Linked DNA regions of Homo sapiens. The protein of the gene in region 1 interacts with the protein of each later gene in a pairwise test. Each region holds a gene or a part of one and is shown on either strand. Other genes may lie near its edges.

Region 1 (7,026 bases):
GATTCAAGTGATCCTCCCACCTCAGCCTCCCAAGTAGCTGGGATTACAGGCACGTGCCACCACACCCACCAATTTTTTGTATTTTTCATAGAGACAGGGTTTCGCCATGTTGCCCAGGCCGGTCTCAAACTGCTGGCCTCAAGTGATCCACCCACCTTGGCCTCCCAAAGTGCTGGGATTACAGACGTGAGCCACCTCACTCAGCCTCTCCATAGCTTTTTATAAGGGCAGCAGTTTATTTAAAAGTGTACTACCTCCCTGGTTTGCTGTCACATACATTAACGTCTGGTCGTGTTGATACTTTTTAGGTCTTGCCATGAAAAACATTTTTATTACAAAAATGCCTTTTGCTGGCATATTCAAGGCATAGTGTGGTTTCAGAGTAGTGAAGGAATTCCATTGGAAAAGCTATCAAGGGTAAATGAGTGGGGTTTTTTCCTCAATATTATTTTTCTGTCTCAGGGAGCTATGGCAACATCCAGAATCTGGATTTTGATGAAATGTTTTAATGTTCATAAAATGGGAAATTGATCTTGAAAATGACCCCTTTTTTGCCTTATTTTTGTTTGTGTAACTTGGAGTTAATTTTACATTTTGAGATTGTGAGATTTTAAAAACTTTATGGTTTTAGGTGATGGTTTTAACCCATCTTGGGACTTGGGGAAAGCTTTTAAGACTGTTTTCTAGAGAGCCAGAAGCCAGCAGGCCCCTGTCTATTACACATGACAGGCAAGACTGTTAGGAAGCAAAGCCACACGGACTTTCCAGCCCCTCTGTGGAGCCTCAGAGCGTTTACAGATTTGGCAGTCTCAAGGGCAACATGTGGGTGGCTGATGCTGGTGGATTGCTGCTGTCAGGGATAATAAAACCATTATGGTTAGCAGCTTGTACGGTAGCACGCAAATGGATCAGCTCAGTCTCCACACAGTTAAGTTGGAGCATAAGAAATCCAAACCATGACTGATCTCAATCATTTCCTTTCCTACAATTTTTTTCTTTTGGCCACTGCTTTACAGTGATTCCAGATCAATCCTAGGCACTGCACCCACTATCATCAAATTCACGTACATAGTTCTTTGCATTTTCACTGCATGCTTGTCCATGGGAGCCCTCTGGTAGCAGTTCCAATTCAGTGCCTTCTCGTTTGCCTTTGCTTCCCAAATCATCACAGTTCTGTGCTTATCCATCCCACATTGACTCACATCCTCCAGAAAATGGCAGGATTGTCATTTCAAAGAAATGGAGGCATCAAGTTGAATAACTTGATACAGAAGCTGGAGTTGGAACCCAGGTCCTCTACTTCCAGGAAGTGCTCTCTTTTTTTGTTTGTTTTTTTAGAGACAGGGTCTCGCTCTGTTGCCCAGGCTGGAGTGCAGTGGCTCACTCATGGCTCACTGCAGCCTCAACCTCCCAGGCTCAAGCGATCCTCCCACCTCAGCCTCCCAAGTAGTTGGGACTACAGGCATGTTCCACCATGCCTGACTAATTTTATTTATTTATTTACTTATTTATTTATTTATTGGTAGAGATGGGGGTCTCGCTGTGTTGCCCAGGCTTACATGTTCTGTTCATTGAACGTCATTGCCTCTTGAGGATTCAGTTTCTTGAGTTTTTGTTATGGTTTTATTCTGTTTAGTTTTTTAAAGTAAAACTTCACCTCATTATGAAAGTTTTACAGCATTTAAATTTTTATGTTCAACATGTTTCTCAAAATCATTTCAATATTTTGATCCCCAGTTTTTGTCATGATCAGCTCACATCTGCTCCTTATCTAACCTTTTTAATTTTGTCCATGACCATCCTACACTGCAGGCTTCTCAACCAGATGAGTTGACCATTGAGGAACATGAGGTGTTAGAAGTGATTGAAGATGGAGATATGGAAGACTGGGTAAAGGTATATTCCTTTGCTCATATCGCCCTTTCTTGTGACATTTTTAGGAGTTTGTTTTGGTCTTTGTTGTGCCCTGTCTAAATTGTGTGTGTAAACTTGTTTTGTCACATGTCTTTTACCCAGGCTCGAAATAAAGTTGGCCAAGTGGGTTATGTGCCAGAAAAGTACCTACAGTTTCCCACCTCGAACAGCCTCCTGAGCATGCTGCAGTCCCTGGCCGCTTTGGACAGTCGGTCACACACGTCCAGCAATTCCACGGAAGCAGAACTCGTTTCAGGCAGCCTCAACGGAGATGCCAGTGGTAAAGACTGAAACAAGGCACTCTTTATTTGGTCACGTTTGACCTAAACTGTATTGCCCTGGAGTAAGCCTTCAGTAGGATAAAAAGCACAACTTTCCTCCTGTCCTATAATATGCTTTTCTTTATATGGTCACGTTTGTCCTGCACAGTAGAACCCTAAAGTTAATCATTCATCAGTGAGTAAAAAAATTACAACTTTAATCCTATTCTGTATGATGCTCTTTTAGTTGTCATGTGAGCATAGGGGTGGTTGCAAAAGCAACCGGCTGTTAATTATCTTACCAGATTTGTTTTTCTCTTGCTCCCTAGTATGTTTTGTGAAAGCACTTTATGATTATGAGGGCCAGACAGATGATGAGTTATCTTTTCCTGAGGGAGCAATAATCCGTATCTTGAACAAAGAAAACCAAGATGATGATGGCTTCTGGGAAGGGGAATTCAATGGGCGTATTGGAGTTTTCCCATCGGTGCTAGTGGAAGAACTTTCAGCCTCAGAAAATGGTGACACTCCATGGATGAGAGAGATTCAGGTACCTGAGAGGGGAGACAGTTGAATTAAAAGATGTTTAAAGAAAATTGCTCCCAAAGGGTCTGTGGATCCACACAAAAGTGGGCTGCAGTCTCTGCCTTACCCTCACCGGTCCTTGGTTGCCAGTGTCTGCACAACTGCATTTGGGAAACCAGAGACTTGTCAGTCAGTCCCTTGTGGAATGTGGCCATCCTCCCACACCTCCATCTTCCCACATTCTCTCTCTTCCTTGAATTGGTTAACCAAAATGCCAAATTATATGTGACATACCAAAGATCGTTTTGGTGGAGAGAAAGAAACAAACCGAAGAGGGAAGGCGTTGCTCTGTGGTTAATTTACGTAGTAAAACTCTTAGCTGGCTCTCTCTCTCCCTCACTGTCAGAGCCTCCTTGCCTAGTCCAGGTCCTGCCAGTCTATTTCAGAGAATTAATGAGCCTGCCAGAGCCCCTAATCCCCACTCAAGTGACCCTAGACTTAGTTCATCACAGGGAAACAGCCTTTAAAGGAACCTCTAATTCAGTCAGAGTTTAGTTTGTCCCCTCAGGGATCTATCACTGCAGGCCAGACAGGTAGAGGAAGAAGGAACGTGTTTGCCGATCTTGTTTGCGTGGTGATTGTGACCCCTTAGCCTAACATGCACAAAACCTGGGGAAGTCAGAAATTCAGCAAAGTATTTTATCTTCACCCCAAAAAATCCAACTTGTTCCTTTTGTTGTTGTTGTTCTTTGCTAAGTTTACTGAATTGACTAATTTGGTACATTTTCAATAGAACCCTAGAGAGTAGCTTCACTTGATAACTGTTTAAGATAAACTAAAATCAGTAATGTGATGAGATCTGTAAGAGGAAAAAGTGAAGTGCAATGCAAAATTGGAGCTTGAGGTGGTTATTTAATGCTCAGTTGCCTCTAATGAGGTTGACAAGTTTCAACAATCAGCTTAGCTTTAGAGAAAAGGCATGAGTACAGAGCAGTCAGAGAAGCAGCCAGGCTCTCCTTCCTGGAGGGGAGCACCGGGTAACCTCGCTTCCCTTTGCTGCAGATCTCTCCTTCCCCCAAGCCACACGCCTCCCTGCCTCCACTGCCGTTGTACGACCAGCCTCCCAGCAGCCCCTACCCCAGCCCAGATAAGAGGAGCTCCCTGTACTTTCCCCGGTCTCCTTCAGCAAACGGTAAGGGTTCTCCTGGGCATGGGTCTAAATGCATTTTCACTTCAGAAACCTACATATTCGCCTGAAGGGCAAAAAAAAACTGCATTTGCTTTTTTTTTTTTTTTTTTTTTTTTGGAGACAGAGTCTCTGTCACCTGGGCTGGACACCCAGGCTGGAGTTCAGTGGCATGATCACGGCTCATAGCAACCAATTCCTGGGCTCAAGTGATCCTCCTGCCTCAGCCTCCCTAGTAGCTAGGAATACAGGCATGCACCACCACACACAGCTAATTTTTGTATTTTTTCTGGACAAAGGGTATTATTCTGTCACCCAGGCTGGAGTGCAGTGGTGGGATCATAGCTCACTGCAGCCTTGAACTTCTGGCCTCAAGTAATCCTCCCGCCTCAGTATCCCAAAGTGCTGGGATTACAGGCTCAAGCCACCATGCCAGCCTTGCATCAGCATTATTGCTCAACAACTCAAGTAAAATGAGCTTCTTTGGTTTTCTCCCTTAGAAAAAAGCCTTCATGCTGAGTCACCAGGATTCTCACAGGCATCAAGGCATACTCCTGAGACCTCATATGGCAAACTGCGACCTGTAAGTCTCTGATCTTGCAGGATTATCGAATGCATAGTTCTTCCAAATTGAAAGTAAGGAATTAATGTTTCCCCGTGGCCCCTGTGTTGTTACTGACTATGCCAAACAAGGATGAACTGGGTTTGGGAAGGTAAAAAGAGCTATTGAAAAGGAAGGCCATAGAAATCAACTCATCTCGGGACATTTAATCTACACTGGAACTTTTTTCACTGAGCCACAGTGAGATTGCAAGATGATGGCTATGAAAGTGATTTAGAATAGAACAAACTTTATGAGCATTAAAGCGGGCTAATTGTGAAACACTTTTTTCAGTAAGCATTTAATTTTCCAGGCCTCTATTTGCCTCTTTGAGGAATACCAAGATGAAATAATAAGCTAACTTCATGGCCTTAAAGAGCGTTTATTCTCCGGGTGAATATATTATTGCAAAGTTACCTCTCCTCACCCTTCACTCTACTGCCATCTGCATTCCACCCACCACTGTACTCCAAGGTCATAACTTGCACGGTAATCCAGTCGGATACTTTGCAATTTTATTTTCCTTGACCCCTATTAGCTTTTGATACCATTCCTTTACCACTGGCTTCTTTTGGCTTCATTCATTCAGCAAATATGTATTGAGTGCCTTCTTAAGGACTTGAGTCTTTATCCCAAATGAGACAGGAAGCCATTGTAAAGTGGTAAGCTGGACAGTGTTGTGGCTGGTGCATTTTTAAAGCATCGCTATGGCAGCTAAGAGGCGGATGGATGGAGGGTGGCAGAAAGGATATAGGGAGCGATTAGGAGGCTGGAGCAGCATCCAAGAAAGAAGTGGTGGCAAGATGGACTGGTGGGTAAGAGTGGGAAGAGAGAGCAGTGGGCTGATGTGCTTCTCTACATTTGCCTCGTTTGCTTTCTTCCTCTCTGGTCCTACCTTTCTGTGGACCTTTGCAGCCTTGCCGCCACCTGTCTCTGCTGATAATTCTCATGGTTCTGTCACTGGGCTGCTTCTCTTGAAGTTGTTGAACGCACTCTTGCCGAATGACCTCATCTACTTCCACAGCTATGATAACCATTTATATGCCAGCAAGTCTCAGATTTATAACTGCCAATCCGATCTCTTCTCTTGAGCTTCAGATGTGTGGATATCTCAGTTTATATATCCCAGATCCCCAAAACTCAGCAAAAATGAGTTATGTTCCCTTCCAGACATGTTCCTTCTCCCATATTGCCTATCTTGGTAAATGGAACCCCCATCCTACTGGTGTTCTGGCATCATTCTTAATACCTCCTGCCCCTGCCTCCCACAGTCATTCCCAAATCCTGCCAGGTATACCTTGCAGAGAGCTCGCAAATCTTTCCACTTCTCTACTTCCCCTACTGCCAGTACCCTCGTTTGGGCTATTGTCAACTCTCATTCAGAGGATTACAAAAGTCTCCTAAGTTGCCTTCTTACTTGGACTCTTGCTTGCCTCTGATCCTTTCTCCAGTTGTTACCTGAGTCATCTTTTCGCAGATCTGATATTGCTTAAAATCCACCAAAAACTCCTCTTTTGCCTACAGAATAAAGCACAGATTTATTTTTTTCTTCTTAAAGCAGATGTTTAAACATGGTTTAACAAGGCCCTTCACAACTTAACCCTAGCCTACCTTTCTAGCCTTCTCTTTTGTAACTCTCTACCCAAGACACACTGAAATGTTTCATTTCTCTAAGCATTGCTCTCCCTTGCTTCCAGCCAGACCTTTGCTTTGGAGGATGTGCTAGGATCTTAGTCATAGGACTTGTGCCCATGAGGTTTTTAGCCTAGGCAAGAAGCTGATTTGTGGGCTTGATATTTCATTGAGAACAACTGCTTCTCAGTGTAGGAAATAGTGAAGACTAGGTTGAAAGCACGTGCTCACAACATTTCTGAGACCCCTAGGGTGCCCATGTCCTTGGACAGATGAGTGATTAGGTTTTGGGGATGCTTCAGATACTGAGTCAGGAACTGACTGACAAACTACGTAATTGTTTCCTGCTCAGGTCCGGGCAGCTCCCCCTCCACCTACACAGAATCACCGAAGGCCAGCAGAGAAGATTGAAGATGTGGAAATCACACTGGTGTGATGATGGGCTTGCCCATCCATTACTGCTACAATCAAGGCCAGGCTTGGAGTTTGGCCAGTCTTGTTTTTTAGGCACCTTTGCATGATGATGACTCTTGAACAGAGCAAAAAACAAGGAGGATTATGTGTGACTGGGTGGCCTGGTAGACTCCTCCCACGTTTTGAATATTTCGTGCCTTTTTTTTTTGTTGTCATTTTCTATGTCATTTCTCCTACCATAGCACAAATCCTAGCGGACCCTAGGAGCAAAGAGGGGGGCAGCCCTCATGCCTAACAGTGGTCTGTTTTTATATGAGACTCAAGAACAGGCCTCATTCCAGGGCACAGTCCCTAAATTACTGATCATGTGCACTCGTACAGTATATTACTGTGACCACAAGGATGTGGCAAAGATTCTCATCTTTCTTCAAGTGGCTTTTGCTCATCTGATTGAGAATTAATCAGATCATGTTGGCTACATAAGGAAACAGAAG
Region 2 (7,026 bases), on another chromosome or scaffold:
TGGAAGTTAAGTGCTATGGGGGAAGGGAATGGGGTAAAAATTAAGCCAATTAATGCCACAGCATTCCAGGAGTGCCTGGGAATCGGGAGGCATCACATACCTCTGAGGCAGGGAGCATGGGGCAGCGGGACAAGGTGATGTTGCAGAGGACTGCTTATGGGACTCCTGGATTTTCTGTCCTCCATCCTAGGCAGAGGTTTGGAGGATTTCTCTCTGGGCAAATTAAGTAGATCTACAGACCCTGATTTTGGGGGATCCCTTATGAAATGACTGAGCCCTGCCTTATGAACCCAGAAAAAGCCCATCGCTCCAGTGTCATCTTTCACCACTCTTCTACATCCCTTCAACTTGAGTAGCTGAAGTACCATAACTGCTCGTTATGTGGAAGGGACTGGTTGGCTACCAAAGAAAGTTAAAGCAAAAAATCATATGCCATATGTAGATACATATTTTAACCAGTTCATCAAATTTTTATTGGCATGCCAAGCCATTTTCTTTGAGGAGGTGTCCACTGACTGGAATTCCACTTTGTGTTTCTTGTACAAACCACACTTCTAATGCATCATTTCCAGTTTCTATTTCTTTCACACAGAATGAAAATGTAAAGACAAATTTCAAGCAAAATGAATGCAAAATCCTTCAAGATTTTAAAAATTCAGTCCAACTCCTCTTAGTTATTTTGCCTATACCTAAGTAGCATTTTTTAAAGTTAGCAATTGACCTTTTATCAAGTCTGTACATTCAATTTTGAATGTTTTATAGAAACAACTGTTTTCTTTTCTTATTCAGATTTTAATTTACAAGAATATATAATTAAAATATGGAAATACAGTAACAAGTACATAGACATAAATCTGGTTTGGAAACAAGCTTAACTTTCAGAGAGTGTCTCTACCTCCTTGGTCTGAGTTATATTCTCTGTCTCTAAATCCTCACATTATGAGCAATAGAAGATAATGTAGGTAAATTTGACAGATCAAAAAGGGCCGTGTAGGCCATAGTGAGGAATTTGAAATTTATTCTATGAACGTTGAGAAGTAACTGGAGAATCTAAAGGAGGAGAATATCACATGTGTTTTTAAAAAGATCCTTTGACAATGATGCAGAAAACATATATGGAGAAAGAAGAAAGGAAGCAGGGTAATAGCAGCTGTACTGCACTGGTTACAGTGAAGATGGAAAGGAATAGATTTGGGGTCTATTTTGGAGATAGAGGTGTCACAATTTGCTGATGGATTGAATGTGGGGGCAGGGAGTGAAAGGAGAGAGTTTTATAATGCCTTCTAGCTTATCAAAACTTGAACACCTGGTGGGAGAGTGGAGGTGGCATTCACTGAGATGGAGAAGACTAGTGGAGGATAAGTTTGGATGGAGGAAATGAAACATTCTATTCCAGCCATATCAGGTTTGAAAAGGTGACTAGCTATCCAAGAGGAGATGTTAAGTAGGTGTTTGGATATGTGAACTTGAAGCTCAGTAAATAAGCCAGGGTTAGAGAAATTTGGTTTTTAGACTGGTTCCTTTGACCTTTCACCTTAAACATCTATTCCTTGTTTCACCCCCACTGGATAGTATCAACTGATTACCTATATTGCAAATAATGATGTTAGCACCCTTCTTCTCTTCTACTTCTCATCTTCTATCAGTTGTGCACTTACTTTTCTTATTAAAGCTGCTAAGATACATTCTGTTGTGTAACCATATTTAAACTCGTGTCTATAGATTGAGCCTAAAAGTTGAAAACTACTAAACAGCATGCATAGTATTACATAATTACATACATTTTGTTCATTTAAGGGTCAAATGTTGTGCCAGGACTTCATTTCCTTCTCAGTGGGTGTAATGCCCAGTGCCACTTGAAAAAAAATGGTTTAGTATCCGTGCCAAATAAATTCCCTTTTCTAGGTCAAAAAGTATTTCCCCTGAGAACTTTGAAGATATTAACTCCATTGTACTCTTGCATCAGTGCTGCCTGATTCCATGTTGATACTTATTTCTTAGATGGTGACTTATTTTTCTATCCCTTTATGGAAACTTTTAGAATCTTCTGTTGATGATGACTGTTTTGCAATTTTGTAATGATATGTAGGGTGTGCATATTTTTCCCCTTCACACTTAGAAGCACCCAGTAGACCCTTTTAATGCATTTTATGTAGGGAAACTTTGTTATTATTTTAGAGGTTGTGTAGAGTACTATACAGTACTGGTTATGAGTATATGCACTGGAGTCAGGCTAGCTGGGTGCAAATGCCAATTATTCACTCTAGCCTTGGGCACGTTATTTCAACTCCATGCTTGCTTTCAAAGGAGTTCAGAACATGCTACTCTAAAATGCCACTCTGGCATATTGACTATATTGAGTTAAAGGCACTTGAAAAACAGCAGATGCAAGAAAAACAGTTTGACCTTCCTTCTCTTTCTCAAAAGCAGGAGATGAAATTCCTACGTAAAAGATATCCTCCCTATACCAGAAGGAAAGCATCATTCTTACCAAGCACAGGAATTTGAGGTGAGGGGAAATCTAGACAAGTAAACCTTGTTAAACTCACCCTTATCTTCCTAGTCATTTCTCTACCCAATTACCCTAGCCCAAACTCCTTTGCCTTGTCCCATTTTTACAATGTACTACTCTTTGTCCAATTTAGTATATGTGTTCTTTCTGTGTCTTAGGGTCTTCATTTCCTTATGAAGGCTCCCCTGCTATGTAAAACTTGTATTAAATAAATTTGTATGCTTTTCTCCTGTTGATCTTTGTGTCAATTTAATTCTCAAGCCCAGCCAAAAACACTAAAATGTTAAAAAATAATTTTGCCTCCCTACATTTTCTTATCTGAAAAATAAGAATATTAATAGTATTACTACACTATTATATTGCATAGAGTTCATGTGGGAATTAAATGAGTTAATATTTAGAAAGTTCCATAAAGTGCCTGGCAAATAGTATGTGCTCAATAAATGTTATGTTTTGCTAATTATCTACCTTCATTTTTACTCTTCTCTTTTCTGGAGCTCCAGAAAAGTTGGATTTCCCAAACAGATCTTCTGTTTTGCTTTCCTTCTCATTTTCCAAGCTTTTGTTTTGTTGTTTTATGCTGTGTGATACTTCCGTGACTTTATTCTCCAAATCTTTTTTTTAACTGGCATAATTCTAATCTTTGGTTGTCCATTTATAAGAAGGGGACGGGGGATCAGCTTGATTTACCGAAATAACTGGTGTGGTAGTTGACATCTGGCTAAGACACTGGGCTCTAGTAGTCTTAATGTTGGGATAGGGTGGAGTGCTCATGACTGGAGCCTTTATTTAAGGGACAGGCTTTGAAGTAACTCTCTGACTCTCTCCTACCCGCTTTTCATTTTTGCCTTCCACTATGCCTGCTGGCTCGGCGTGTAGCTCAGTCAGGGCTTTGGCCAGGCAGATTGTCTCTTCTTTGCTGCATCTCCTTCTAGAAATTGCTTCTTTATTCTCTTTTATCTATCAATAGGCTTCTAGTCTTTGCTACGTTCCAGAAAGTTCTTCCTTCTATTCTCTTCACTCTTAAGAGTTTATTGCTTTGCTACTATTTATAGTAATAGGGTCTTGGAAGGCAGGGAATTTAGATATGTGTGCTCAGTCTGCTATCCTGAACCAGAAGTGGAAACTTTATTATCTTTCTAAAGGACAAGTCATTGTTACAGATTATCTAATAGCCCTCTTCATCAGCTACCTTCCTTGAAGTGACAATAGTTACAACTCTTAAAATGTGGTGGCAACAACAATGAGCAGGATGCTACTAAGTTTCTGACTTTGAGGCTGGTGTTATTAATGATCAATACAATTTTCATTATGTCATATTAACTGCATTTGGAGACAAACTGTCCACTAGGAAGAAATAACAAACTTCCCAAGGGCTGTATTTGCTGTGTGTGTATTTTCAACTTCATAGAGAAGTAATTATTTTCAGGAGCTGTCCGGACATCTAATACATCTTAGTTTTGGTAGCAATAATTTGAGATAACATAAAAGGTTTTTACCACTGCAAAACCTTACCTATTCCACAAGAAGGCTTTTGCATCTTGCTGTGTTTGACTGGCAAAACCAGTGGACACGATGGTTTTTGGAAGTCACTCCTCTGGGTGCTCTTAGAGTCGTAAGGTGGTAGGAAGACAGGTTCCAGTGCTTTACCATGTGACCACCAGTCACCCTTTATAGAAAATAATTGGAAACACAATATTGGATACTGTAGGGCATTTTCATGTATTGCTTGATGTCTATGGATATTCAGTAATTCAATTTAACAAGTTAGTGGATATCCCAGTACTAATGTGGAGTTCTGAAATCTGGAAATATCTTTTCACAAAAAATGTATTTCTTTGAAGGCACTGGAAAATGAGTTGTCAAATTTTTAGCTAAAATACAGCTGCTGAATTCTTAAGCTACCTTCCTTCTATCAACAAATGAAGTGGTAAAAATCAGCAAAATAGCTGTATTTGTTTTATACTATGATTTTATTATATATGTACACGTGTATGTATAAAATATTTAATTTAAAAAATTATGTTGTAATCTTTTCATTATGACAATACAAATAATGTATTATCATCTAAAAATAGTGGTTTTCAGAAGTTTTAGTCCCTAGCCTGAACCATGAAATACATTTTATGTCATACAAGAGCACACAATGCTATACATACATAAAACTGAAACAAAAGTTTCACAAAATACTTACTATATGCAGTGTGCTTAACTATTTTTCTATTCTATTTTATTGCTTTCCTATTTCATTTCACGTTGCTGACTGCAACTCATTGATTTGTCATTCACTAATGACTCAGTTTGATAAACTTTGTTCTAAGGGGAAATCTCTCTAATGTTACTGAATTTTGGTACTAAAACCTAAGTACACAAGAAAGGGAAAACTGAGATTCTTCATTAGCATGTATGACAATTTGATTTCTTGGAAGTTGAGAGAGTAGAGAGGGGAACTGTTACTCAACTTAATTCTGACCAAATATTTTAAAACTGGTTGATTAGGTGGTAGTAAGAAAATGCTTGAGAAACCCTATGACACCTAGGAGTTCCTGGAATACAGTTAGGATATGAAAGTAACTTCCGGTATAATCAAACACCTACCGTGGGCTATAAGGAAGCAAGTCTGCCTTTTGAAAATCAACTATGGTTCCATAGCCAAAGACTTCTAAACTATGATTCAAGGGGGATAAATATGCAATTCTAATAGGTAAAATACTGACAATACAATTAAGGCTACATTGATGCAAAAAGGGAGATGTTTCTTTAAAAAAAAAAAAAACCTATGTGGCTGCATAGGGAGTCAGCTCTCAAATGAGCTTAGTTTCTAAAAAGACAGGCATGTATAAAAGACATATACAACATTAGATTTAAAAAATAATTAATGGAGTCAGCTTGTCAGAAGATTGTCAAGAAACTTAGAAGACATTTATAAATTTATAAAATTTTACAAATTGATAATTTATACAATTGTCAAAGGCAGCAAAAATAATGTTTTCTAGAAAAAATTGTTCATAGCTGAGTGAAATCCTACAGCCCCAAAAAAGGTTATCTTTTGTGTTCCGGCTAACAGTTTGGAGAGAAGAATCTGGTTCAGGAAAGTCAGAACTATTCATTCAACTTGAGGTTGTTAAGGAAAATTACAGTTAACTTGAAAAAGATGGGATGAACACATACCAAAGAACTAAGCCCTGAAGAGCTGATGAGAGAGTTGGACTTCACTTTGTCACTTTATAAGAGTGCCAGTTTTTAGGCCAATGACAAATTGTAAGCAGGAGTAATGGAATAATTGGTAATTGTAACTGGGGTAATTTCTGCAGAGATTACAGAAATTTAGGAACTAGGGGATTTTGGAGAATAGATTGGCTAATGCTTCACTTTTCAGAATGGGCTAAAAGGTGAATTTAAAAAATTAAGACTACTTGATGTAGATCCTAGGAAAATTCTAGAACAGATTACTAAACAGATGGTGTCTTCTCACTATCTGGCTGAAAATAGTCACATCTTACTGTTGTCAGAGCGCCTGCTTCTGGCAGCTCTTCTCCACTCCACTTCACAATTATAATAGTGCTTATTACACCCCAAGGTCTAGGATTTATAGGTCTTGTCTTACTTATATAAGCTCATCACAATTCTATGAGGCAGGCACATCCACTTTACAGATGAGAAAACTGCCAGGAGATGAAGTAACTTCCCCAAGATATATCACCAGCAGACTGCTGCACTGCCACAATTCAAACCCCAACCTCTTTGTGCACACCTCTAATTTCTGTGCTGCACTGCTGTATCAAACCTGCTGTGGAATGCAAAACCAGCTAAGTACAAACCAAATGAAATTATTTAAGAAGTGAAAATAGAGGCTGTAAGTGCACGTCTTAGTCTGTTTTGTGCTGCTACAACAGAATACCTTAGACTGGGTAATTTATAAGGATCAGAAATTTACTGGCTCACAATTCTGTAGGCTGGGAAGTCCAAGATCAAGGCACTGGCAGGTTTGGTAATTATGATTCTAAGATGGCACCTTGAACACTGCATCCTCACATGGTGGAAGGCAGAAGAGCAAAAAGAGGGCAACAGGGGACAAAACTTGCCCTTTTATAATGGCATTCATTTCATTCATGAGGGTGGAGCTTTCATGACCTAGTCACCCCTTAAGGGTCCCACCTTTTAATACAGTTACAATGGAAATTACATTTCAACATGAGTTTGGAGGGGACAAACATTCAAACCATAGCAGTAAATATTCTGAGAAAGTTCTTCTGTGATAAGATTGTAAAGCATACACAAACACTTCATATCATCTACTTTTGTTGATCAAAAACTTATTTTGCTAATACTCAAGTTACTGGAAAAATGGCTCTGGGATAAGCGAACCACTAGGAAATGGCTGATGGACTTTAATTATTATTATTTGTTATTATTATTTTTTTGAGCCAGGGTCTCACTCCATCACCCAAGCTGGAGCATAGTGGTACGATTACAACTCACTGCAGCCTCAAACTCCTGGACTCAGGTGATCC
Region 3 (7,953 bases), on another chromosome or scaffold:
CTCTGATCTCCAATTTCTTCATCTGCAAACTGGATGTAACAATGCCTTCCTCACAGTGTTTTGGTGGGAACTGAAGAAGATGATGCATGGAAAAGCATTTTGTACCTTAGGCTGAAAACCTGCACTGTCAGGCACCACATAGCACACTACCATCCCAGTGCACTGTCACACGGGCCATCTAGGTAGGTATTTGGATGGCTATTTTATAACAATGCTGAGGCTCCAATAAATGAATGAATTTTCCAAGAATGACACTCAACGATCTAATTCAAGAGTCATATTTTTCCCACGATATTTACACTGTCAATCAAAATGGAGAAAGGACTGTGAAGCCCAAGAGCCACTATGAGGGTCTGTCCTTAAAGATCGGTTCCAGGGGCTGTGCATCTTGGAGACGGCAGGGACTGTCCTCTCTCCCTTTGTCCCCCCTGCCCCACTGTGGCCTTCTGGAAGAGAGGAGGGTCCTAGAAGAAGTCACGCGCCCTCTCCTGCTCCCCAGGGTCTCTTAACCCAAATCCGTCCAGAACGTGGTAAAATGTGCCACAGCTCTTTGAAGTCAACTATTAAAATTGAGATGTAATACACAGCTGCATGTATTTAATTCCTCATAAGGAGACTACAATTTGCTTTTCCTTTCTCATTTATTTCATTCAACCAACAGAAGTCAGAATGCCCTTACTGATGAGGTATCAGGCAAGAATCCATTTTTTAAATGTACAGGCTGAAGAAATAAGTAGGAAAGGCTTGGCAGACTGACTGCCACACAGTAGCATGGGCACAAGAAGCCACTCTAGGGTTTTCCTGCCAAGAAGTTTTGAGTGAAATTTCTCTACCCATGAAAAATCATTAGCACTGACATCGCAGGGATAATCAATTCTCATTCTTACGGCTAAGGCAGAAATTCTCTCATGTATGTGGTTCTGGAAAATTCTTCTCACACATACTGATCATAGACCCTGATCTACTAAATAATATTAGCTAATAATTATAGTAACTAATAATTGTAACTGAAATCCTAATTAATATTCATTAACTAACTAATAATAACAATTATAGTAGCAACTAATATTAACTAATAGCAGCTAGTAAGTATAAATAACATTCACTAATCATTAGAATATTTCTTGAGTGCTGATAAACACTTGACACCATGCGGGGCACCCACGCACATCATTTCATCAGTCCTCATGACAACACTATGATGTAGGCACTATTCTTATCCTCATTTTACAGACAAGGAAATTGAGGCTTAACAAGGTGAAATAACTTTCCCAAGGTCATACAGTTACAAGTGGCACTGAAACATTTGCTTAGGGAACCAAAACTAATGGCTTTTCCAAGACCCTGGGATGAACATTGCCTCTCCAGGTCATCCAAAGCTAACTAAATTATGGGCCCAAACTTCAAGAACACAGGACATCAAATAAACCTTAAAAATCCATTAACTTATTGATTGTCTTCTGAAGAATATGTAGACCAGGTCTACAGAATATATAGAGGACTGGCTGGTAAGAGGTAAAGTTTTTAGCAATGAGCATCAACAACGTATTTAGAGCCCACCAAAACCATTTTCCCCCCCAAAAAAATTTTTTTATCCAATAGCCAAAAAATTTACTCCTTCTAGATCAACTGAAAGTTTCAGCAGTCATCAATAGCCACAAAAGATTTCGCAGAGTTTCACATTTGGAGTGTGTTCTCATCTTTTTCGGCTAATTTGTTCTAGAGATCACTAAAACAATAGCTGCTCAGTTGTACTTAGCAAAAGGGACAGCCAAGCTATTTTCTCTTGCTTTCTTCTCACCCTCTCTGGAAACCTCATGAACTTTCGGGGCTGGGAGTGGTGGCACTCAGCGGCTGCCTTTGGGGCTGTCACCCCAGCCAATGGCTTACTCTGGGTACTGTTTCTGGCAGAGTGGCTGCTGAAATCCCAGCCGAAACCTGAGATCCTCCAGAAACTAGATATAAAAGGAACAGCCGCCTTGCTGGTCTCTAACTCTTGGGTTTAATAAAACTGTTTTTTCTCTCCACAGCCTTCCTAACTGCTGCTAAAATGCTGGTCGAAATATCAGTTCCAGACAGACAGACACTATATAGGTTCAAGCCTAAAATCAAAGTCTGACCCATTTCCAAAGAGAAATGTGTCACTTCATCACCCCTATTTCTTACGGCAGGTCCAGCTTGCACAGAATGAAGGCCAGAATTGAAGAGGTAGATGGTCTCAAGAAAATTAGACAAAGCACTGGTTATGAAGGTCGGCTTTCAGCTCTTATTTTGGGGCCGTCTGAATGCCTGGAGTGTTTATAACTGTGGCCTGAGAGATGTCTGCTCTGGTCACTGTGACATCACTTTCCTCAAACAATGGATTACACATGCTAACTTTACACTTTCAGTATGGTTACATCATTACATGGCATATACAAGTGATTACACCCCAGAGTCATTTTAGCAATCTGGTTCATCATCCGCTCCAAACAGTGTTACACAAAGTATCATTTATTTACAATTTTAAATTAGTTTAAGCCTTGCAGAATGAATGGCAGAAACACATACAAAAAAGTCCCTGCTTCTATGATATTCACAAGGCAACACAACACAAATCACATGTTAAAAATTCTAGTGTCAAGCACGCCTCCTTACTCGAATCCCTTTTCACACCCAGCCATCCAGATTACACCCTTTCCATGCTTTTTCAACACTATGAAATCAAATGCAGAAAGCAAAGGGCGCACATACTTATTGCAGAGCCACAGCTGACTACACGCAAAAAAGAAACTGAAGGCCAACGTTGGCCATATTTCCAACCCTAAGTTATTCAGAAAAGAGTATAGGAAGAAAGAGTCCACCAGACACCTACCGCTATGGACCCAGAAGATGTAGCAACAAACACTTTGATAACCATTTCGACAGTTGGAAAGAGGACTCCCCCCAACACACCCCTGTCAGGGAATGCGCCGCTAGACAAATCCTGACAGTGACACAGGCAAGCAAGTGCCAGGTCGGGGCTGGCAGCAGCCCAGGGGTCCACTGGGCTCCGGCAGTCCCGCTCCAACTTAAGAGGCTCTGTCTCTCCAAGGAGCAGCAGAGGCATCTTGGGCTCCTCCCTCCATTGGCCCAGGAATATTTTGGGATCTGTCAGGAAAATATTTGATTGGTCGATAAAAGCAGCCACTGGACCCTTTCCCTATCACTTTAAACGCGCGACAACAGTCCCTAAAAGGCCAGGCTGTGCTGTGCACCAATCGGAGACCTGTGCAGAGATGCCTTGGGGCCAAGGGAGGTGGGGCCCCGGTAACAGAGCAGCAGGAGGCGAAAGAAGTGAGGGAGGAGCTCTTGGGAGCTGGAAAAGCCCAGAAAACACCACCTCAGTCTAGGAGGAGGCTGGGTTTAAAGGGCTTTTGGCAAACAAATAAACTGGAAGGGTCAGAATAGCCACAGAGGCCTTTAAGTAAAGAGCAACTTTGTTTTTTTTCCTGGCAGGTTAAAAAAAATTTTTTAAGTAAACTGTCATACAATAGAAATGCCTTTAAGAGTGGCTGTTTCCAGTGTGCTCTCTTTCCCACCTGTTTCTCCTAAAGAACAGAAACTGACCAGCCATGGGCCATCTAAAGTTTCACTGACATCCAGGGAGGTAGGGAAATAGCCGCTGGCTTCTCAATACTCATGGCTGCAACAAGCCAATTGTCTCACTATTTTATTTACTTGTCACTGACTTGAAGTTTATTAACTATTTTAAAGTGCTTGGGGAAAAAACCAAAATAATCTGTTTATAACAGGCTCTTTGTTTACATAGGTATTTTGTGTTTATTTATATATATTTGTGTTTATACATGTTAATATTTATATAGGTATTTTGAATTGTGTTAAAAGTTAGAGAAGGTCCGGGGCAGTGTCTCACACCTGTAATCCCAACACCTTGGGAGGTCAAGGCAGGAGGATTGTGTGAGCCCAGAAGTTCAAGACCAGTCTGGGTAACATACTGAGGTACGACTTTACCAACAACAATAACACAAAAAAAAACAGCCAGGCATGTTGGCAGGCGCCTGTATCTGTATTTCCAGCGACTTGGAAGGCTGAGGTGGAAGGATCCCTTGAGCCCTTTAGCCAGGAGTTTGAGGCTGCAGTGAGCTATGATCACACCCACGGCACTCCAGCCTGGGTGACAGAACAAGACCTTATCTCTAAAACAAAACCAAATCAAACAAACAAACAAATTAAATTAAAGGAATACAAAATCTAGCAAAGAAGCCCAAATGCCAGTTATGCAAATTCTTCTGATAGATTTCAAAATCAAGATCAAGGGCATTAGGGACAAAGGGCTAGTTTTTCAAGAAGCACTTGGGGGATATTTAGCTTAGATAACTGAGTCTCTTACTGTCTCTCTCTCTCTCTGTTCTCCGGCTCCCTTTTTAAAATCCCCTGCTGCCCATCATGGATTGGGTGGCACCGACGTTCCGAAGCAGAGAGGAATCTCCCAGGCTTCTGTACTCCCTCTTCACCTGAGTCCCAGAGCCCCAGAGGCATGTTTCCCACCCCCTCAGGTAGGTGCCTGCAACGAGAAAAGACATCCCAGTCCCCGGAATATCCCAGTTCCTGGAATATCGCTTAAATGCCCCTACATCACAATGAATGATTGAGGTGACTACCAACATTTAACTTTTGGCTTCAACATGCAAAGTTAGCTGCTCCAAAAATAAGGTCCTTGATGAAGATGATTAATGGTTCCCCAAATTTAAGTCAGTAGAATTATAAATTTTATTTTAAAGCACACCAAGGATTACAGATCAGTTTTTCTTTTCTGCATTTTCAAAATTTCTACAGTACGTATTATTTTTTCATACAATTATATATTTTCACACCTTAAAGTCTGCCACATAAGCATGCCATATTTCTCCAAATATTACTTGAAGAAAGTGGGGGCATATTTTCTAATGACTTTGTAAGTTAGTAGCATAAACTATAGCTGGATTCTCAGGTGCTCTAGAGAATACGCATCTCTTGATTATATCAGGTGAAAACTGCCCTCAATAATGACACCTCCTCCATCTGCAAACCCTGGGGAGAAATTAATTTCCTACTCAAATAACAGCTAACAATTTGTAGGTGTTGTCCATGTGCCAGATCTGCTCTAGGTGCTTTGCATAAGCCACTCCCTTAACCTGTATAAGAACCCTAAAACTGTGTTCCATTATTATGCCCACTCACCATGAGGACACAGAACTAGAGATGATGGGAATAGGAAATGGCATATCCAAGACTTAAGCCTCACCCATTCCTCTCCACACCACATGAGAAGCTCCTGAGATGCTACCCTCAAATTCCTAGTGCCCCCTTTTCACTATGAATTTTTTTAAGTTTATTCTTTTCGAAATGACCATAAAAATGTACAAATTAAAAATCTGAAAACTCCAGCTGAAAGATTCCTTCTAATGTATTATTACACTAATGACACAAACGAGCTTCAACATAATTAACAGGAATAGCGAACATTCCAAATGCATCTTAAAATAAAGCTCAATGAACCCCTGACTTACAAAATCCACTTCAGAAAGAAGGTGTATAATTTAGTGAAGATGCAAGCAGCCAACCATTCAACATCTCCAGTGCTTGCTGTTTATGTCTGTTCACAAAGACCAGGAGATCCACGGAGGAAGGAAAGGAGATTTTATTTTTAGGGGGAGATACAACCTGCAGATTGGGGAATGCAGCTTACAGAAAAAACCAAAAATGCACATGCTGCAGAAGGGAGGAAGGAGCTGGTATCTGTGTCTTACAGAGTCAGCCTTACATACATACTGAGCAAGGTTGCAGAGGATCTACTAATATTTATGAGGAAATTCAGGCATGTGTGCAGTGGGTAAACATATATGTATCATACATTCCATGTTCACCTTGGGGTGGAGTTCTAGCATTAAAATGGGATGGAATTTGGCTCTTTATATCAACAGGTGAACTATAGGGCACAAAGACATTTTATGTGCAATTTCTATAAGCTGGCCAAAATTGGCTGGAGGTCTGCAGCTGTTTATCAATAAAGAATGTTTATAAGACCAGTCCTTTGTCCAACTGGAGTTGTAGTAGGTCTGCAAGGCGTTTGGGGGTGGGGGCGCATACTGAGGGAGGGAATGTTTCCATTGGCTGGCATCAGGCAGTCTATCGGGGTCAGTTGGAAATTTTCCAGCTGAAGTTGTGTTGGCTATGCTTTTTCGAAGCTGGTTTCTGCTTACTTAATAGCAGTTAATAATGCAAAAATACGTAACTAACCCCTCATCCTTCTGGCTGTGACATTCTGGAGGTTTTGTTTTGTTTTGTTGTTTGTTTTTTGTTTGTTTCTGTCACCAGGCTGGAGTGCAGTGGCTTGATCTCAGCTCATTGCAACCTCCACCTCCCACATTCATCTCCTGCCTCAGCCTCCCGAGTAGGACATTCTGTTTTTGGTGCATCTCATTTTAGGAAACAGGAGTTCATTTTGTCCGTCTGTTGGAGTATATTTTAACAAGTCAAATAACATCACTTTTTGATTTGATTAATTTTGATTTAAAGACATGAGGTACTGGGCTACAAACTTCATAGAGACCCCCAGATGATCTCATGATAAATGATACCAGATGATATGTTTTGATTTACATAACTTTACAGATAACTTAAAATGACAAATAAAGACACGTCTTTATTATGTAGAATGATGGAAATGATTACCATAATAACTGTAGTGGGTTGAATATTGTTCACCAAAATTCATGTTCAGCCAAACCTCAGCATGTAACCTTATTTGGAAATAGAGTCTTTACAGATGTAATCAGTTGAGGGGGTCTTGTGATTAAATCATCCTGGATTTAGGGTGGGCCCTAAGTCCAATGACTGGTTGTCCTTATAAGAAGACAAGACAGGGAGACACAGAGAAGAACACCCTGTGAAGATGGAAGCAGAAATTGGAGTGGTGCTGCCACAAGCCAAGGAATAGCAGGAGTCCCCATAAGCTGGAAGACTCAAAAAATTCTCCCTAAGAGCCTTCAGAGGAAACATGGACTTTCAGACAACTTGGTTTCATACTTCTGACCTCCAGAAATGTGAGAAGATAAAGTTCTATTGTTCTAAGCCCCTAAGTTCGTGGTAGTCTGTTATGACATCCCTAGGAACCTAGGAACCTAATATAGAGAAATAAAGGCTATGCTTTTTATGTGGCATGATGGAGATGGCCCCAGAATAGTGAAAGGCCATGGCTCTTCTCCTTCCATTGTGTACACAGAAAAGAACACCCCTTCGAAAGCAAAAGCAAAGGCCAGGCACGGTGGCTTATGCCTGAAATCCCAACATTTTGGGAGGCCGAGGCGGGCAGATCACTTGAGGTCAGGAGTTCAAGGCCAGCCTAGCCAACATCGCAAAACCCCATCTCTACTAAAAATACAAAAAGAATTAGCCGGGTGTTGTGACTCACACCTGTAATCCCAGCTACTCAGGAGGCTGATGCAGGAGAATCACCTGAACCCAGGAAGCGGAGGTTGTGGTGAGCTGGGATGGCGCCACTGCATTCCAGCCTGAGCGATAGAGTGATACGTCTCAAAAAAAAAAAAAAAAAAAAGCAAAAGCGAAAGCAAAGAAAGATTCAAGGGCAGATTTGCAGTGACTTATCATGTCTACAGACTGGGAAAAGCTGGTAGAAAAGAGGAGGAAACCATTCTCAGGAAACTCTACCTTTCAATTCCTCCAGTCATGAGCTCCAGGGTTGGATGCTCCCGCAATGGCAAAACTCCGCTCTCGTTACTGTCATGGGGCCACCACCACCCACCAAGCATCAGCCCATCTTTCCATAATGTCAAGTCTAGAGTGACATTTGTCTAATGTTTGCCTACCTGGAGATGTTGCCCCGCCCACCACCACCAGCAAAAACAACCGGCACCCATCTTATACGGATAATTCCCTACCTAAGGAGTTCTAGAAATGCATGGCCCACCA
Region 4 (7,026 bases), on another chromosome or scaffold:
TCCAAGAGAAATGAAAGCCTGTGACCACAAATAACTGGTACTCAAATTTCCATAGCAGCTTTATTTGCAATATCCACATACCTGAAACAACTCAAATGTCTATCAGCATGTGAATAGATAAGCAATGCGAGTGGATATCTATAATCTTAAAATAATATCCTGCAATAAAAAGGAGTAAGCAATTACTATATGCAATAAATGGATGTATTTGAAAATATTGAGTGAAAGAAGCCAGAGAAAAATGGTACCTGCACTATGATTCCATTTATATGAATTCTAGAAAATTTATACTGCCTAAGGTGACAGCAAATTAGCTTGCCTCAGGATAAGTGCGAACATAAAGGGGTAGAAGAGAGGTACCACAGGTTTATAAGGAAGTGATTGGGACGTGTTCATGATCTTGATTGTGGTGATGGTTTCACAGGTGCATACATATGTAAAAACTTATCAAACTGTATCCTTTAAACATGTTCAGTTTATTGAATATTGTAGATCAGTAAAACTGAAAACTAAAAAATATATTCAGTGATATTGTTGGGTATAAATTTAGTATATAAACATTAATTGTATTTCTGTAAATTATCAACAATTAGAAAGTGAGATTTGAAAAATAATCTACAGAAGGATATGAAAAATACCTAATGAAAAGTATAAAACTACCAAAATAAAACACAGATATAAACATCGATAGACTTTTAAAAAACCAAATAATTAGAAGGATATACTATGTTTATTGAAGACTCAGTAATGTAAAGATATTAGTACTTTCCAAATTGATTTATGAATTCAGTACTATCACAGCCAGTTTTGTTTATTGTGAAGTCTGACAAGCTGATTCTAAAATGTATATGGAAATGAAAGTATCAAGAATGGCTAAGACAGTCTCTAAGAAGATGACCAAAATTGGAGACTTATCCATGATATGTAGACGTATTATAATTTACAGCAGTTGAGATAGTGTGGTATTGACACAGGATAAGCAAACAGATGAATGTAATAGAACAGAGCAGTACTTTTCAACCAGAAAATGTAAGCCCTAATGCCCTAAAGGCATCCATTAAATATAATGAATTATTTCTCCTATGGATCTAAAATAATACCCGCTGTATTCCCTCTTTGAGTAAATTAAAAATACAGTTACTCAGTTTTCTGTGAGGTTTTCATTCTCTTATGGTCCTAACATTTAAATTTGTTTTTGTTTTTTTAAACAGCATTGAGCTTAGAGAATTGGAGAAGAAATTAAAAGCAGCTTACATGAATAAAGAAAGGGCAGCTCAGATTGCTGAAAAGGATGCCATTAAATATGAACAAATGGTAATCATGTTTCTGGTCATTATGTTTTTAGCTTCATTTAGAAAATAAAAATTAGACTTGTTTCTTAAAAAATTGTCATATTGTATAAAGAATTTACACTGCTAGATTTCTTAAATATTTGTAAATTTTCAGATCCTTAAGATGTAGAAAATCCTGCGTGATTTCATTTTTAATATTAGAGCCTTTCAGAAACACATTGCTGCTTAGAATGACCAGCTATATTCAGTAACTCCCAGCATTCTTTATAGTCTCTAACTGATTATTCACTGACAAAGTAGTACAGTACAAATTGTTACCATGATAAGTGTATTTTAGAATGTTATGAAATTTTTAATTATTTAAATGTTTTTAAGAGTAAACTACTTGATAATTTTATGTAGGAAACTTTCCAGTTTTATAAAAGCCATCTCTTTTTCTCATGTTTCTCTCTGCTTTTATCCCCTTTTCTAACTCCTGATATGGTACCAAGTTGAAGATAAGAGTTACTCTTGGGCAAAGGAATCTCAGGCATACTCACTAGGAGTGCTTTGCTGTATGAATATATAATAGGGTTTACTGAATTAACAGTTAATTAAAAGGGTGCACATCATCCCTTGAGCTCTCATTATCAAACAGAAGGGCCAATTATATATGAATGTTTATATACACATACATATCTATTGTGTATGTCCACATAAACATATGTACACACACACACACTCTTATGGGGTGATATCAAAATACTTAACCAGTGCAGTGCAATATGGGTATCAATTAAGAATAGATACCATAAATGACACATATATGTGTGTGTTGCGTGTGTACAATTGTGTTAGTATAGAAAATGTCTAGCGGGTACACAGCATGCTGTTAACAGGAATACCTTTAGGTGTGGCAGGTGATAAGAAAAGGTGGAGAGACTTCATTTGCTAAGCCATATAGCGCTGTCCTTTGAAAAAGAAAGTAGCACAAACAATGTCCTGTTTGTCCAGTGGTTTGCAGTTTTAATTATCCTGATAGTTGAAGTTATTCAAGGTAGTTGTAGACGTTTTAATCTGACTCCTACGAGAATTGCTGCTATTTTCCAAATAAAAATTGATCCACAAAATGAAAGTCGAATACTACTAGGACTTGACTAGGTGTCATGCAAGTACTAGTTTTGGCTTTTTCTCTGAGCCTTAGTTTTCTTATCTGTAAAATGAGAACATTGTTTTCGGTAAGTGTGTGGTAATCTACACATAAATGTTATTGTCATCTCATTTTTTAATAAAGAATTTAGTATAGCATGTACAAAGAAGATAATCAGAAACATTTTTGGTCAAGTCATATTATCAGAGTATATGTTAAAGGCTTCAGTGACGTCAGGAATGACATTCAGTATTCATATTTTAATCTGTTTACTCTTTATGTTTGATGCTGCTGACCATTCCATCATTCGGGATGTGATCATAAAAGTAAAGCGTAGTTTAAAAAATTGCCTCAGTATATTTCATTTAAAACTTATTTTATTAAATGATTTGAAAAATGCTCAAAAGAAATAAGGGGTTTAACCCATCCAAGAAGAAAGATTGTCTCTTGACAATGGGAATGGTCTTGAGTGAATTAAAAGCTGTAGAAAATAGGCACAGTAGCATCTGTGATTCTTTTCAGATAAAGGGCCTTTAATAAATCAGAAAGGGGAAACGTCAAGGGCCAATGGCAGGAAAGAAAGTTTAGGCTAGGAGAAACTTAAGAGCTGCTCAAAGCCATTTAATAGCAGACCTGTAAGAAAGAGGCAGTACCATCTTTAAATAGCAGCTGATAAACAATGAAGCTAAAAACGATGAAAATTGCCTAGCTCAGTTTATAAATAGAATAATAAGATAATGACTGCTTTAGCAGCTAAATAGTTATTAAGAAACTACTTACAATTGTATTCATTGTTTTTTGAATGTGGAGTTATTAATAATCCTTATCAGGTATTGTCCTGAGAGAGCTACTTGAAGGGATAGGAAAGCTGCTTTAGGGTCTGACTTATTGTTCACACCCTTCAGGTAATAATAACTTACTTTTGCTTTTTAACCTAGACAGATGAAAAAATTTATTTTATGTAAAAGACTTTATAATATTCAATAACATTGGTGTAAAATATACTATCGTACTATGTTCAAATTTGAAAACGGAAAGATCAATTTTGTTTTAATAACAGAAACGTGATGCTGAAATAGCCAAAACCATGATGGAAGAACACAAGAGAATAATAAAGGAAGAGAATGCTGCAGAAGACAAACGAAACAAAGCGAAAGCACAGTACTATCTTGACTTAGAGAAACAACTTGAAGAACAAGAAAAAAAAAAGCAGGAAGCTTATGAGCAGCTGCTAAAAGAGAAACTCATGATTGATGAAATTGTTAGGAAGATCTATGAAGAAGATCAGTTGTAAGTTTATCCTAACTTTCTTACATGTCTAAATGTTTACTTTAGATATATCACAGGTTTGTTGTGAGGAACTGAAGCACCTAGAACAGTGCCTAATACATAGTAAGTGCTCAATAAATACTAGCTATGAAAACATAAATTGGGACCAACTCCTTCTCATCTCCGTTAGCATAATTAATAAATGAATTATCTGATGATTAATAAATGCTGAAGTGATTGAATGACCTAAACCTTTGTTTTTCTTATATATGCCCATATCATATGTCAGAGGACAGGTATTCTGATAAATTTTTTTGGTAGACAGCTTAAGTATAGAGTGCTGCAAAGCTAATGTTAACAGATTGTAGCCTTTATGAAATAAGATGCATAAAACTTCATTAATAGGTTAGAGGAGACTATCACAGTATTCTACCCAAAGAAAAATTCATACCTGACATTATATTTAGCACACAGTAAGCATTCAAAATGTTTGTTGCATGCACGAATGAAAAAACTATAGTGTTTTTCTGTACATTATTATGAACAAAATGAAATTACTTTTTTATATTTTATTGTTTACTATAAATCTGTACTTGTTATTGCTTTTCAGGGAAAAACAACAAAAGTTAGAAAAAATGAATGCAATGCGAAGGTATATAGAAGAGTTTCAGAAAGAGCAGGCTCTCTGGAGAAAAAAGAAACGTGAGGAGATGGAAGAAGAAAACAGAAAAATCATAGAGTTTGCTAACATGCAGCAGCAAAGAGAAGAAGATCGGATGGCAAAAGTTCAAGAAAATGAGGAGAAAAGGCTACAGCTTCAGAATGCGGTATTAAAATAACCACTTCTTTAACACTAGTAAAATTCTGAAATATTAGTTACAGAATTTGGATCCTATAAATATTTATGTTTTTTAAAAAATTTAATAGTTGACACAGAAATTAGAAGAAATGCTGCGGCAACGTGAAGATTTGGAACAAGTGCGACAAGAATTATACCAGGAAGAACAAGCTGAAATATATAAGAGCAAGCTAAAAGTAAGTTTCAGAAATGGAAAGAATGATTAATGTAGAGAAGAATATAATTTTGAGATGAAGCAGAAAAGAGATAGTACATTTAAATCCAACCATACTGGTAATTACATTATATGTAAATGGTATACTACAGTTAAAAGACAGAAATTTTCAAGCTGGCTAAAAAGATAGACTCAGGCATCAATTTATAAACTTACCATAAAAAGCATGATGCAACTATGTTGTCTGTAATCACAATTTAAAAATGAAGATACATACTTTAAAAGCAAAAGGATGGTGAAAGATACGTAACATACAGACACTAGTCAAAAGTAGGTTGGAGTTGCTACGTTAATATGAGACAAAGTCAACTTCAGGACAAGCAATTCATGATAATACAGTAAATTCATCTAGAAGATGTCATAGTCCTAAAGGCGTGTGAACCTAAATAATAAAGCTTCACAATACATGAAGCAAAACTGACAAAAACTGAAAGGAGAAAGAGGCAAATCCACAATCAGAGTTCAAGATTTTTTTTTTTTTCTTTTTCTCTTTCCAACTTTTACTTTAGGTTCAGGAGGTACATGTGCTGGTTTGTTACAGGGGTAAATTTGTGGGTCATGGGGATTTGGTGTAACATTATTTTGTCACCCAAGTAATGAGCATAGTACTCGATAGGTAGTTTATTGATCCTCACCCTCCTCCTATGTCTACCCTCAAGTAGGCCCCAGTGTCTGTTTTCCTTCTTTGTGTCCACGTGTACTCAATATTTAGCTGTTACTTGTATGTGAAGACATGTAGTATTTGGTTTTCTATCCCTGCATTAATTAGCATAGGCTAATGGCCTCCAGCTCCATCCATGTTGACGCAAAGGATATGATTTTGTTCTTTTTTATGGCTGTGTAGTATTCCGTGGTGTACATGTACCACATTTTATTTATCCAGTCCACCATTGATGGATATCTAGGTGGATTCCATATCTTTGCCATTGTGAATAGTGCTGCTATAAATACACACATGCATGTGTCATTATGGTAAAATGATTTATATTCCTTTGGGTATATACCCAGCAATCCCATTGGGTATAAACCCAGCAATCAAATGGTAATTCTGTTTTCATTTTTTGGGGAGTCGCCACAGTGCTTTTCACAGTGGTTGAACTAGTTTACATTCCCACCAACAGTGTATAAGCATTCCTTTTTCTCCACAACCTTGTCAGCATCCATTCTTTTGTGACTTTAATAGCCATTCTGACTGATGTGAGATAGTATCTCATTGTGGTTTTGGTTTGCATTTCTCTAATGATTAGTGATATTGAGCACTTTTTCATGTGCTTGTTGGCTACATATATATCATTTTTTGAGAGGTATCTGTTCATGTACTTAGCCTATTTTTTCTTTTTATTTATTTATTTTATTTTATTATTATTTTTTGAGATGGGAGTCTCGCTCTGTCGCCCAGGTTGGAGTGCAGTGGCGTGATCTCGGCTCACTGCAAGCTATGCCTCCCGGGTTCACGCCATTCTCCTGCCTCAGCCTCCCAAGTAGCTGGGACTACAGGCACCCGCCACCATGCCCGGCTAATTTTTTTCTTTTGTATTTTTAGTAGAGATGGGGTTTCACCGTGTTAGCCAGGATGGTCTCGATCTCCTGACCTCATGATCCACCTGCCTTGGCCTCCCAAAGTGCTGGGATTAGAGGTGTGAGCCACCGTGCCTGGCCAGTCTATTTTTTAAATAGGGTTGTTAATTTGTTTACGTTCCTTAGATATTATGGATATTAGACCTTTGTCAGATGCATAGTTTGCAAATATTTTCTCCCATTCTGTAGGTTGTCTGTTTATTCTGTTGATAACTTCATTTCCTGTGAAGAAACTCTTTAGTTTAACTAGGTCCCACTTGTCAATTTTTGTTTTTGTTACAATTGCTTTTTGAGTCTTCATCATGAAATCTTTGCCAGGTCCTATGTCCAGAATGGTATTTCAATGCACAGTTCTCATTAATCTATAGACTAGGTAGTCAGAACCGCAGGATATCGTATTGAAAGCAATATCAATAAACTTGACCTGACATTTAGAGAATACTCCACCCAACAACAGCAGAACACAAATTCCATTCAAACATGGAACCTTCACCGAGATAGATCATATTCTAGGACATAAAGGAAGTCTCAATAAATTTTCAAGGTTTTAAATAATACCAGATATGTTTTCTGACTACAGTGGAATTAAATTAAAAATCAGTAATGAAAATATACCTGCAGACTCCTTAAATATATTATAATTAAACAATATATTTCTAAATAAGCAATGAGAAAAGGGGAATAA

What was found.
Region 2: the proteins of FCHSD2 (region 1) and CIMIP6 interact in a two-hybrid assay, tested with the Homo sapiens proteins (one study listed by BioGRID and IntAct).
Region 3: the proteins of FCHSD2 (region 1) and SH3BGR interact in a two-hybrid assay, tested with the Homo sapiens proteins (one study listed by BioGRID and IntAct).
Region 4: the proteins of FCHSD2 (region 1) and MNS1 interact in binary tests that used the Homo sapiens proteins (3 or more experiments, as listed by UniProt).

What each region holds. Positions count from the first base shown.
Region 1 is NC_000011.10:72,838,319-72,845,344, reverse strand, and holds part of FCHSD2 (F-BAR and double SH3 domains protein 2), read left to right. Parts: intron 1-1,604; exon of another isoform or gene 1,605-1,812; coding exon 1,813-1,896; exon of another isoform or gene 1,897-2,016; coding exon 2,017-2,194; exon of another isoform or gene 2,195-2,503; coding exon 2,504-2,724; coding exon of another isoform or gene 2,725-2,728; intron 2,729-3,761; coding exon 3,762-3,891; intron 3,892-4,385; coding exon 4,386-4,468; intron 4,469-6,470; coding exon 6,471-6,554; 3' UTR 6,555-7,026. UniProt on the Homo sapiens protein: Adapter protein that plays a role in endocytosis via clathrin-coated pits. Contributes to the internalization of cell surface receptors, such as integrin ITGB1 and transferrin receptor.
Region 2 is NC_000002.12:54,340,875-54,347,900, reverse strand, and holds part of CIMIP6 (ciliary microtubule inner protein 6), read right to left. Parts: intron 4,182-7,026; coding exon 4,028-4,181; intron 1-4,027.
Region 3 is NC_000021.9:39,447,043-39,454,995, reverse strand, and holds the start of SH3BGR (SH3 domain-binding glutamic acid-rich protein), read right to left. Parts: upstream 3,027-7,953; 5' UTR 2,900-3,026; coding exon 2,855-2,899; intron 1-2,854.
Region 4 is NC_000015.10:56,441,129-56,448,154, reverse strand, and holds part of MNS1 (meiosis-specific nuclear structural protein 1), read left to right. Parts: intron 1-1,211; coding exon 1,212-1,314; intron 1,315-2,271; exon of another isoform or gene 2,272-2,484; intron 2,485-3,481; coding exon 3,482-3,711; intron 3,712-4,300; coding exon 4,301-4,517; intron 4,518-4,617; coding exon 4,618-4,725; intron 4,726-7,026. UniProt on the Homo sapiens protein: Microtubule inner protein (MIP) part of the dynein-decorated doublet microtubules (DMTs) in cilia axoneme, which is required for motile cilia beating.